2 separate regions of the Homo sapiens genome follow, and region 1 is linked to region 2. The links come from fine-mapping of genetic effects on gene expression. A gene starts in region 2. The other region holds a variant in brackets. All regions are shown on one strand. Distances are from middle to middle.

Region 1 (5,514 bases), 92 kb after region 2:
TTTGAAGTCAGGTAGCGTGATGCCTCCAGCTTTGCTCTTTTGGCTTAGGATTGACTTGGCAAGGCGGGCTCTTTTTTGGTTCCATATGAACTTTAAAGTAGTTTTTATCCAATTCTGTGAAGAAAGTCATTGGTAGCTTGATGGGGATGGCATTGAATCTATAAATTACCTTGGGCAGTATGGCCATTTTCACAATATTGATTCTTCCCACCCATGAGCATAGAATGTTCTTCCATTTGTTTGTATCCTCTTTTATTTCAGTGAGCAGTGGTTTGTAGTTCTCCTTGAAGAGTCCTTCACATCCCTTCTAAGTTGGATTCCTAGGTATTTTATTCTCCTTGAAGCAATTGTGAATGGGAGTTCACTCATGATTTGGCTCTCTGTTTGTCTGTTATGGCTGTATAAGAATGCTTGTGATTTTTGCACATTGATTTTGTATCCTGAGACTTTGCTGAAGTTGCTTATCAGCTTAGGAGATTTTGGGCTGAGATGATGGGGTTTTCTAGATATACAATCATGTCATCTGTAAACAGGGACAATTTGACTTCCTTTTTTCCTAATTGAATACCCTTTATTTCCTTCTCCTGCCTGATTGCCCTGGCAAGAACTTCCAACACTATGTTGAATAGGAGTGGTGAGAGAGGGCATCCCTGTCTTGTGCCGTTTTCAAAGGGAATGCTTCCAGTTTTTGCCCATTCAGTATGATATTGGCTGTGGGTTTGTCATAGATAACTCTTATTATTTTGAGATATGTCCCATCAATACCTAATTTATTGAGAGTTTTTAGCATGAAGGGTTGTTGAATTTTGTCAACGGCCTTTTCTGCATCTATTGAGATAATCATGTGGTTTTTGTCTTTCGTTCTGTTTATATGCTGGATTACGTTTATTGATTCACATATGTTGAATCAACCTTGCATCCCAGGGATGAAGCCCACTTGTTCATGGTGGATAAGCTTTTTGATGTGTTGCTGGATTCTTTTTGCCAGTATTTTATTGAGGATTTTGCATCAATGTTCATCAAGGATATTGGTCTAAAATTCTCTTTTTCTATTGTCTCTCTGCCAGGCTTTGGTATTAGGATGATGCTGGCCTCATAAAATGAGTTAGGGAGGATTCCCTCTTTTTCTATTGATTGGAATAGTTTCAGAAGGAATGGTACCAGCTCCTCCTTGTACCTATGGTAGAATTCGGCTGTGAATCCATCTGGTCCTGGACTTTTTTTGGTTGCTAAGCTATTACTTATTGCCTCAATTTCAGAGCTTCCCATTGGTCTATTCAGAGATTCAACTTCTTCCTGGTTTAGTCTTGGGAGAGTGTATGTGTCGAAGAATTTATCCATTTCTTCTAGATTTTCTAGTTTATTTGTGTAGAGGTGTTTATAGTATTCTCTGATGGTAGTTTCTATTTCTGTGGGATCGGTGGTGATATCCCCTTTGTCATTTTTTATTGCGTCTATTTGATTCTTCTCTCTTTTCTTCTTTATTAGTCTTGCTAGCGGTCTATCAATTTTGTTGATCTTTTCAAAAAACCAGCTCCTGGATTCATTGATTTTTTGAAGGGGTTTTTGTGTCTCTATTTCCTTCAGTTGTGCTCTGATCTTAGTTATTTCTTGCCTTCTGCTAGCTTTTGAATGTGTTTGCTCTTGCTTCCCTAGTTCTTTTAATTGTGATGTTAGGGTGTCAATTTTAGATCTTTCCTGCTTTCTCTTGTGGGTATTTAGTGCTATAAATTTCCCTCTAAACACTGCTTTGAATGTGTACCAGAGATTCTGGAATGTTGTGTCTTTGTTCTCATTGGTTTCAAAGAACATCTTTATTTCTGCCTTCATTTCGTTAGGTACCCAGTAGTCATTCAGGAGCAGGTTGTCCCATTTCCATGTAGTTGAGTGGTTTTGAGTGAGTTTCTTAATCCTGAGTTCTAGTTTGATTGCACTGTGGTCTCATAGACAGTTTGTTAAAATTTCTATTCTTTTACATTTGCTGAGGAGGGCTTTACTTCTAACGATGTGGTCAATTTTGGAATAGGTATGGTGTGGTGCTGAAAAGAATGTATATACTGTTGATTTGGGGTGGAGAGTTCTGTAGATGTCTATTAGGTCTGCTTGGTGCAGAGCTGAGTTCAATTCCTGGATATCCTTGTTAACTTTCTGTCTTGTTGATCTGTCTAATGTTGACACTGGGGTGTTAAAAGTCTCCCATTATTATTGTGTTGGAGTCTAAGTCTCTTTGTAGGTCACTAAGGACTTGCTTTATGAATCTGCGTGCTCCTGTATTGGGTGCATATATATTTAGGATAGTTAGTTCTTCTTGTTGAATTGATCCCTTTACCATTATGTAATGGCCTTCTTTGTCTCTTTTGATCTTTGCTGGTTTAAACTCTGTTTTATCCAAGATGAGGATTGCAACCCGTGCCTTTATTTGTTTTCCATTTGCTTGGTAGATCTTCCTCCATCCCTTTATTTTGAGCCTATGTGTGTCTCTGCACGTGAAATGGGTTTCCTGAATACAGCACACTGATGTGTCTTGACTCTTTATCCAATATGAGAGTCTGTGCCTTTTAATTGGAGCATTTAACCCATTTACATTTAAGGTTAGTATTGTTATGTGTGAATTTGATCCTGTCATTATGATGTTAGCTGGTTATTTTGCTCATTAGTTGATGCTATTTCTTCCTAGCTTTGATGGTCTTTACCATTTGGTATGTTTTTGCAGTGGCTGGTACCGGTTTTTCCTTTCCATGTTTAGTTCTTCCTTCAGGAGCTCTTTTAGGGCAGGCCTGGTGGTGACAAAATCTCTCAGCATTTGCTTGTCTGTAAAGGATTTTATTTCTCCTTCACTCATGAAGCTTAGTTTGGCTGGAGATGAAATTCTGGGTTGAAAATTCTTGTCTTTACGAATGTTGAATATTGGTCCCCACTCTCTTCTGGCTTGTAGAGTTTCTGCCGAGAGATCCGCTGATAGTCTGATGGGCTTCCCTTTGTGGGTAACCTGACCTTTCTCTCTGGCTGCCCATAACATTTTTTCCTTCATTTCAACTTTGGTGAATCTGACAATTATGTGTCTTAGAGCTGCTCTTCTCGAGGAGTATCTTTGTGGCATTCTCTGTATATCCTGAATTTGAATGTTGGCCTGCCTTGCTAGATTGGGGAAGTTCTCCTGGATAATATCCTGCAGAGTGTTTTCCAACTTGGTTCCATTCTCCCCGACACTTTCAGGTACACCAATTAGACGTTGATTTGGTCTTTTCACATAGTCCCATACTTCTTGGAGGCTTTGTTCATTTCTTCTTATTCT[T/A]TTTTCTCTAAACGTCCCTTCATGCTTCATTTCATTCATTTCGTCTTCCATCGCTGATACCCTTTCTTCCATTTGATCACATCGGTTAATGAGGCTTGTGCATTCATCACGTAGTTCTTGTGCCATGGTTTTCAGTTCCATCAGGTCCTTTAAGGACTTCTCTGCATTGGTTATTCTAGTTAGCCATTTGTCTAATTTTTTTTCAAAGTTTTTAACTTCTTTGCCATTAGTTCGAACTTCCTCCTTTAGCTCGGAGTAGTTTGATCTTCTGAAGCCTTCCTCTCTCATCTCGTCAAAGTCATTCTCCATCCAGCTTTGTTCTGTTGCTGGTGAGGAGATGTGTTGCTTTGGAGGATGAGAGGTGCTCTGATTTTTAGAGTTTCCGTTTTTTCTGCTCCGTTTTTTCCCAATGTTTGTGGTTTTATCTGCCTTTGGTCTTTGATGCTGGTGACGTACAGATGGGTTTTTGGTGTGGATGTCCTTTCTGTTAGTTTTCCTTCTAACAGTCAGGACCCTCACCTGCAGGTCTGTTGGAGTTTACTGGAGGTCCACTCCAGACCCTGTTTGCCTGGGTATCAGCAGCAGTGGCTGCAGAACAGCGGATATTGGTGAACCACAAATGCTGCTGCCTGATCATTCCTCTGGAAGTTTTGTCTCAGAGGGGTACCCGGCTGTGTGAGGTGTCAGTCTGCCCCTACTGGGGGATGCCTCCCATTTAGGCTACTCGGGAGTCAGGGACCCACTTGAGGAGGCAGTCTGCCCGTTCTCAGATCTCAAGCTGCATGCTGGGAGAACCACTACTCTCTTCAAAGCTGTCAGACAGGGACATTTAAGTCTGTCTTAATTTAAGGTTATTGCTGTCTTTTGTTTGTATGTGCCCTGCCCCCAGAGGTGGAGTCTACAGAGGCAGGCAGGCCTCCTTAAGCTGTGGTGGGCTCCAGCCAGTTCGAGCTTCCTGGCCACTTTGTTTACCTACTCAAGCCTGAGCAATGGCAGGCACCCATCCCCCAGCCTCGCTGCCGCCTAGCAGTTTGATCTCAGACTGCTGTGCTAGCAATGAGCGAGGCTCCGTTGGCGTAGGACCTCCAAGCCAGGTGTGGGATATCATCTCCTCATGTGCCATTTGTTTAGCCCGTTGGAAGAGCGCAGTATTAGGGTGGGAGTGACCCGATTTACCAGGTGCCGTCTGTCACCCCTTTATTTGACTAGGAAAGGGAATTCCCTGACCCCTTGTGCTTCCCGGGTGAGGCGATGCCTCGCCCTACTTCGGCTAACACACGGTGCACTGCACCCACTGTCCTGCACCCACTGTCAGGCACTCCCCAGTGAGATGAACCCGGTGCCTCCATTGGAAATGCAGAAATCACCCGTCTGCTGCATCGCTCACGCGGGGAGCTGTAGACTGGAGCTGTTCCTATTCGGCCATCTTGGCTCCACCTCCCTTAAAATTCTTTATCTGGGGATTTTATGAATTTCTTTTTGATTGAGATCTGTTGCTGGAGAATTATTGTCTTCCTTGGGAAGTGTCATATGTCCTTGCTTTTTCATGTTTTCTGTGTACTTAGATTTATATCTGTGCATCTGTTGTAATAGTCACTTCTTCCTGTTTTTTTAGATTGCTTTCATAGAGGAAGACTTTTTTCTGAAGATCTATATATGTTGTTGGTTAGGTAGGGCATTTTGGCTTTTATTTTGGGTGCATGCAGTAGTGTGATTTCCGTATGATTTATTCAGCTGTAAACATTGTCAATGGTATCTGTGATTTCTTCAGTGGCTTAGTGTGTTCTTATTAGTGGAGGCTATGGTGAAGTTTTACTAGGGAGTAGGATGCCAGGAGGGCCAGTGTTTGGGCACCAGCGGTGGCAGCAGTAGGCCGAGTGTGCCTGTCTTTGGCCTCCAACATGACTTACACTGGTACCAATGTTAGGGGGCCTAGATGATTCAATTCTTGGGCTTTCAGATGGCTTTTTTCAATCTGGTAGTGGCCAGTGGTAAGTCTGGCATGTGGATAGGTTCCCAGGTCCTTGGGCAGCGAATATGATATGGGTGATGGCAGTAGCAATGGTGGAGCAACCTACTGAAACCCAAGCAGTCCATGCTAGTCCTGGTGGTGGCTATGACAAGTTGGGTGTCCATAACATATTAGTTATGGCCACTGGTGGTGTGTGTAGGTGGGTGCCAGCTGTGGTAGTATTGGTAGGTTGTGTCAGCCTGACCTC
Region 2 (5,000 bases):
AAGTTCCCAAGTTCAGTTTGAGAAGTGAAGGGCCGCTAGGTGTAGGGGAGTCTGGAATGGGAACGTTAGGGAAATGCCTCCCCGAGGCGCATTCTCCTACCCATTCTCCTCTTTCTTCCCCCCCCCCCACTCCCCTTCCTCTTCCTGTCCCTATTCGTCTTCCTTCAGCTTTGATTAATATGCATGTCTATGCTCCGTAGTGCGGGCCACCGCCTCCCGTTCGACCCCTGGCACTGGGAGACTGAGCTGTAGCGACCAAAGGCTTGGGATGGGGAGGCTGAGCGCTCAGAGCGCGGAGTCTGAGGACCCCTCGCCGCGCCCTGTATCCCACCCCCCTGGCTGGAGAGAGCGCCTCAGTGACCCAGACTCCGAGATCCCGCTCGGTCTGCGTTGCAGTGGACAGACCCAGGAGCTTGGAGCGCGAAATGAAACGCGCTAAATTGTACCTGTGCGTGGCCGTTCCCGCCGCCGCCGCAGGTCTATCCCGGGGCCGAAGCCGGCGCCCGCCTTCTCGGGGAATTCTCCGGAGGGGGAGTGCGAGGGGAACCACGGTGACTGCCTGCTAGCTCACGGCTGGCGCGCACACGCACACGCCCAACTTTGCCAAGCCGTCGGCGCCCCGCGGGCTCCCCCGCGCCCCCTGCGGCTCAACACGCTCGGAGACCTGTATCTCTCCTGCTCTGAGATAAGGTTCCCTCCACTCTCACACCTTCGCATGTAGGGGAGGAGAGGGCGGAGTGAGGCAGAGAAGGGGGTTAATGCTACTGACTCCCTGGCCAGCCTTTCTCAAACACTCTACGCCCGCAGGGGCGCCCGCGCCAGCCACGCCGCACCAGGTCCCCCAGACCTGCTGGTGACGACAGAGAGAGGAGGAGGAAGAGAAGGCAGGGCGAAGAACCGGGAGCCGGGGAGCCCCGGAGCTCGGGAGCCCGGGAGCCCAGGCGACGGACAGTTCCATCGACTGACCGTCATTATCAGCACTTTTATTACTAAAGGACTGGGTGGGAGGTTGGGGGGTGTGCAACAGAGCTGGCCAGCCCCAATCCACTCTGGAGCGACCCTAAATTAGAGCCACAGAGAAAGATTCTCCACGGATACCTTTTGAGTGGACGTGCTCCAGACACACACCCGGACCCCGTGGTCCCGCCGAAGCTGCAGTGTTGGGGGTATTTTAAACGGTTCTTATTTGGAAGGAGGCGTGATTTCCACGTTCGAGCGTCTTCGCTCCCCACCCCCTCTCGGCACCAGCCAGTGCGCGCCACCACCTGAGCCTGGCGAGAGCCGGGACGCACGCAGTCTTCAGCCTGCTCCTTTAAGCCTCTGGAGAGACTCGGCTCTGAGCGGGTCCGCCCGACACCCGCCCCCTCCCCCCACTCCTGAGAACTCTTTACTTTTTGTTTGGAAAATCGGGGCCATTTCTTTATTTATCTCTGGGTCTTCCCGGAGGAGGGCAGAGAAGGGGAGAGCGAGCTTGGCGGGCCGGACCGGGGGAGGGGAGCGAAGGGAGGGGAGGGGACTGGGTGTAGCCTGGAATTCTCCGTCCTCGTGTTCCTGGGCGGGCGCGCAGAGTCTCCTGGCGATAGCGCCGTCGCCGCTCCCCGCGCCACCCCGTCGTTGGCCTTGGGGGTCGGGTGAGTGGGGTCATGACGAGCCGCGGGGGCTGCCCCGGGCCCCGCCCGCGCTGAGAGGGGACGCGGCCGCGCGGCGCGGAGCCCCCCTGGCGGGGAGGCCGCGGGGGGTGGGGAGGGCGCACGCGGTAGGGCGGAGTGGGGGCGGCGCAGAGGCCGCCAAGCTGGGGGGCTCTCCGGGAGGGCGCGGCCGCGGGCAGGAGGGCGTGTCTCCGGCTCGAGGGGACCCTCCCGAGGCGCGGCGCGGGACTCCCCGATGGTGGTGCCGCGGCTCCGGGAGAGCTCAGGGTCTCGCCGCCGCCGCCGTCGCCGCCGCCGCGGGCGCCGCTGCCGCCGCCGCCGCCGCCGCCGCCGCCGCCGCCCGAACCCGCGCCGAGCGTGCGCCTCGCCCTCCTCCCGCGCCCGCTCTGCTCTAGGATGCTGCGGCAGGTTCTGCACAGGGGCTTGAGGACGTGTTTCTCCCGGCTCGGCCACTTCATTGCCAGTCACCCTGTCTTCTTCGCCTCGGCGCCGGTGCTCATCTCCATCCTGCTCGGCGCCAGCTTCAGCCGCTACCAGGTCGAGGAGAGCGTGGAGCACCTGCTGGCGCCCCAGCACAGCCTGGCCAAGATCGAGCGCAACCTCGTTAACAGCCTCTTCCCGGTCAACCGCTCCAAGCACCGTCTCTACTCGGACCTGCAGACCCCCGGGCGCTACGGCCGGGTCATCGTCACCTCCTTCCAGAAAGCCAACATGCTGGACCAGCATCACACCGACCTGATCTTAAAGGTGAGAGGGGACGGGTGCGGGCAGACTCCGCCAGCGCCGCGGCCGCGGTCGGGCTGGCTCTGCGCTGGGGTCCCGGCTGAGAGCGCCACCTCTCCTAGCCCAGGCAGCTGCCGCAGGGACTCTCCTGCACCGCGCGCCCCAGGGCGGCCGACTGGAGCCTCCCAGCCTCCTGGACAAGGAGCGTCGGGGTCCGGGTCCGGCCCTGCCCGCGTCGCCTCTACCGCCACCCCGCAGCTGCTGCAACAGTTGGGGCGGCGGCGGCCACAGTGCTGTGGTCGGTGCGCTTGTTTTGGTCGCAGTGGGCTTGGGGGTGGGGAGGCTTTGGGGTAACTGGGCCAGCAAGGAGCAGAACGAGAGAAGACATTCTGGAAAGTCCTACTACTTGAGAACAAAATACTATGCTTGGAGGGGATTCCGAGATACCCCTCCCTGTCCTCAGTTTTGTTTCTCCCTTTTTCTGGCCCCCCGGAGTGTTTGGGGAACGGTTGTTGGTGTGGGATGTTGGGAAAGGACAAAAGAATGTGAGGCGGGATGGTGATGAAGATGCCTCCCACCCACCCAGAAAGAAGTGTGGTCTCTGGCGAGGACAGGGGGCTGCCCTGCTGCTCTCTTCTCCGGAGCGAGGTAGCCATCTCTATCTTCTAGGGTATGAAATTATGTTTGTAATTCGCAGTTCCTTCGTCTTTCACAGTAGCTCCTCAAGAAATGCCAAAACTTTGGGAAAAGAGGGAACCGATCAATCCACTTTTATTTGGGTGCATCTGAGCATGGGGGTGAGGGGCAGAGCCCGAAGGGTGAGAACAGAAGCCAGGCTGTGTGACCCCGAGAAGAGCACAGGAAACCGAGCAGCTGGTTAGAGGGTGACACTCGCAGAAACCGGTTGTGCCATCAGCTTGAGGTGGGAATTTGATGTGGAAAGTGAGGTTAATGGTGGTAACTTTCAGGAACTTCCTAAGAAAAGCAGAGGAGTGAGGACTAGAGATGGAAAAGTGGAGACCTCGGGAGAGAAAAGTAAAAATAGGTGAGAATGTTCCATCTGAATCCCTGATGGGGACTGTGGGGCTTGTTTACTTAAGGTTCTCCTTTGGGGAGGGCAGACAAGAACCAGTCCCAGCTGGGACTCTGGTGCAGAGGGATGGAAGGTGATCGTTTTGTGTGAGTCTCTAGTCCAGATCTGGTACTAGAGGCTGGTTAGATTTCTAGTCTACTTATCCCAAGGGGAGTCTGCCGGGAAACCTGGGGAACTCTTTCCTCTTCTTTTCCTCTACAGGTAATAGTTTATCCCTAGAGACAAGCTAATTTTCATTATTTTCCTATGTCCGTTTGTTGACATGTTATCAATTAGCAATTAGTAATGAGGGGAATCTGACTAGGGGCTCAATGGAATTAGGATCTTCCCACATGGAGTGGCTCATGATATTTTTAATGGCACACATCACACATTTACTCATCACAGAACCTTAATAACATTAATCCCGAGATGTTTGTTTTTCTCATGATTAGACTTCCAGCATCAAAGTGGTTTTCTTTTTTCTCTCAATACTTTAGTGACTATATTTTGGGACACAGATAAATACTGCTCCAAAAGCTTTCCCACGAAAACACATAGTAGATTCATCATGGGCATAAGGAAACTGTAATTTAACCAGTTCTGACAGTTGGAAATGCCCCGTCTTTTGATTGATGATCTACTAAATGATATTTCTCTTTTTGTGTTTTTTCAAGGTGACGTTTCCATTGCCTTTCCCCCCCCACCCACAAACCATCACACCACTGTGACAGGCAGTCACCAGTTACAGTCACTCTCAAGGTTAATGAGACATCAACAAGCATTATCAGATCTCTTTTCAACTGGATTACTTCTTCCCTATTTGATTTTGATCAGTTCAGGACAGAAAACAGTGCTATAGGAGAAGGTTGAGACTGGAGAGACGGAGGCTTGGTTTGCCTCCATATCTAAAGGGCAACTTTAAAGGACAATGGTCAAAAATCAGTGGATTGTTTTAAGAACTGGGATGGTTTTTCATCTTCTAGGTGTCTGAGTAAAATCAAAACCAAGCCTAGCAGTGGTCCGAACTTATTTCTAGCTGATGACTCTCTGGTCAAATGAGTTCATACAGCTTATAAAAATCCAGACTTACGGAACCAAGGAAATAACTGTCTTCAATTTTAAATTATATGTTTAATTTTTTCTTTCTGCATCCAGCCCCTACTTTTGGTAGATATGGAGCCAGGGGACAGGAAGATGGACCTTCATTAGTCATGGTAATGTAAAGTGTGGGAGTGAGCACTTTTTTTTTTTTAATTTTTTTCATTTAGAGACATGATGACTTGTCCTTTAGGAAAGGTGTCAGGAGTGAAAGAATCACTGTTATTGTTGTTACTAGTGTTATTCTGATGCTTCGTTACTGGCATCAAGGATAGCATTGACAGTTAACACTACACAACACCCAACAGTCCCTGCCCCCTGCCGGTTTTATGGCGTCACATTTGAAATGAAGTGAAGTGGACAGAGCATGAGCAGGTCTGAGGCTTTTTCATACCCCAGTACAGAACTGAGGAGGTGACTTGTAGGGCTGTGTAGGGTGTTGCTTCAAGCATGAA

Alleles and levels. Positions count from the first base shown, and alleles are read on the strand shown. Sizes are in standard deviations (SD) of each study's normalised expression.
For the expression in sun-exposed skin of the gene that starts at base 2,019 in region 2, A is the high allele of the variant in region 1 and T is the other (small effect, 0.17 SD a copy in GTEx).

What was found. PIP is the estimated chance that this variant, and not a neighbour inherited with it, causes the effect. A credible set is the group of variants that fine-mapping cannot tell apart.
Region 1: its variant is the best candidate, but not a certain one, in a credible set for the expression of PTCHD1 in sun-exposed skin (GTEx, PIP 0.51).

What each region holds. Positions count from the first base shown.
Region 1 is chrX:23,424,710-23,430,223 of GRCh38, forward strand. No RefSeq gene overlaps it. Among named protein-coding and RNA genes, the nearest start is that of PTCHD1, 93 kb to the left of the region's middle. The variant T/A (reference allele first, on the strand shown) is at 3,296.
Region 2 is chrX:23,332,831-23,337,830 of GRCh38, forward strand. PTCHD1 (patched domain containing 1) reads left to right here and starts at 2,019. Exons shown (of 3, transcript NM_173495.3): 1 at 2,019-2,396. The coding sequence starts at 2,046.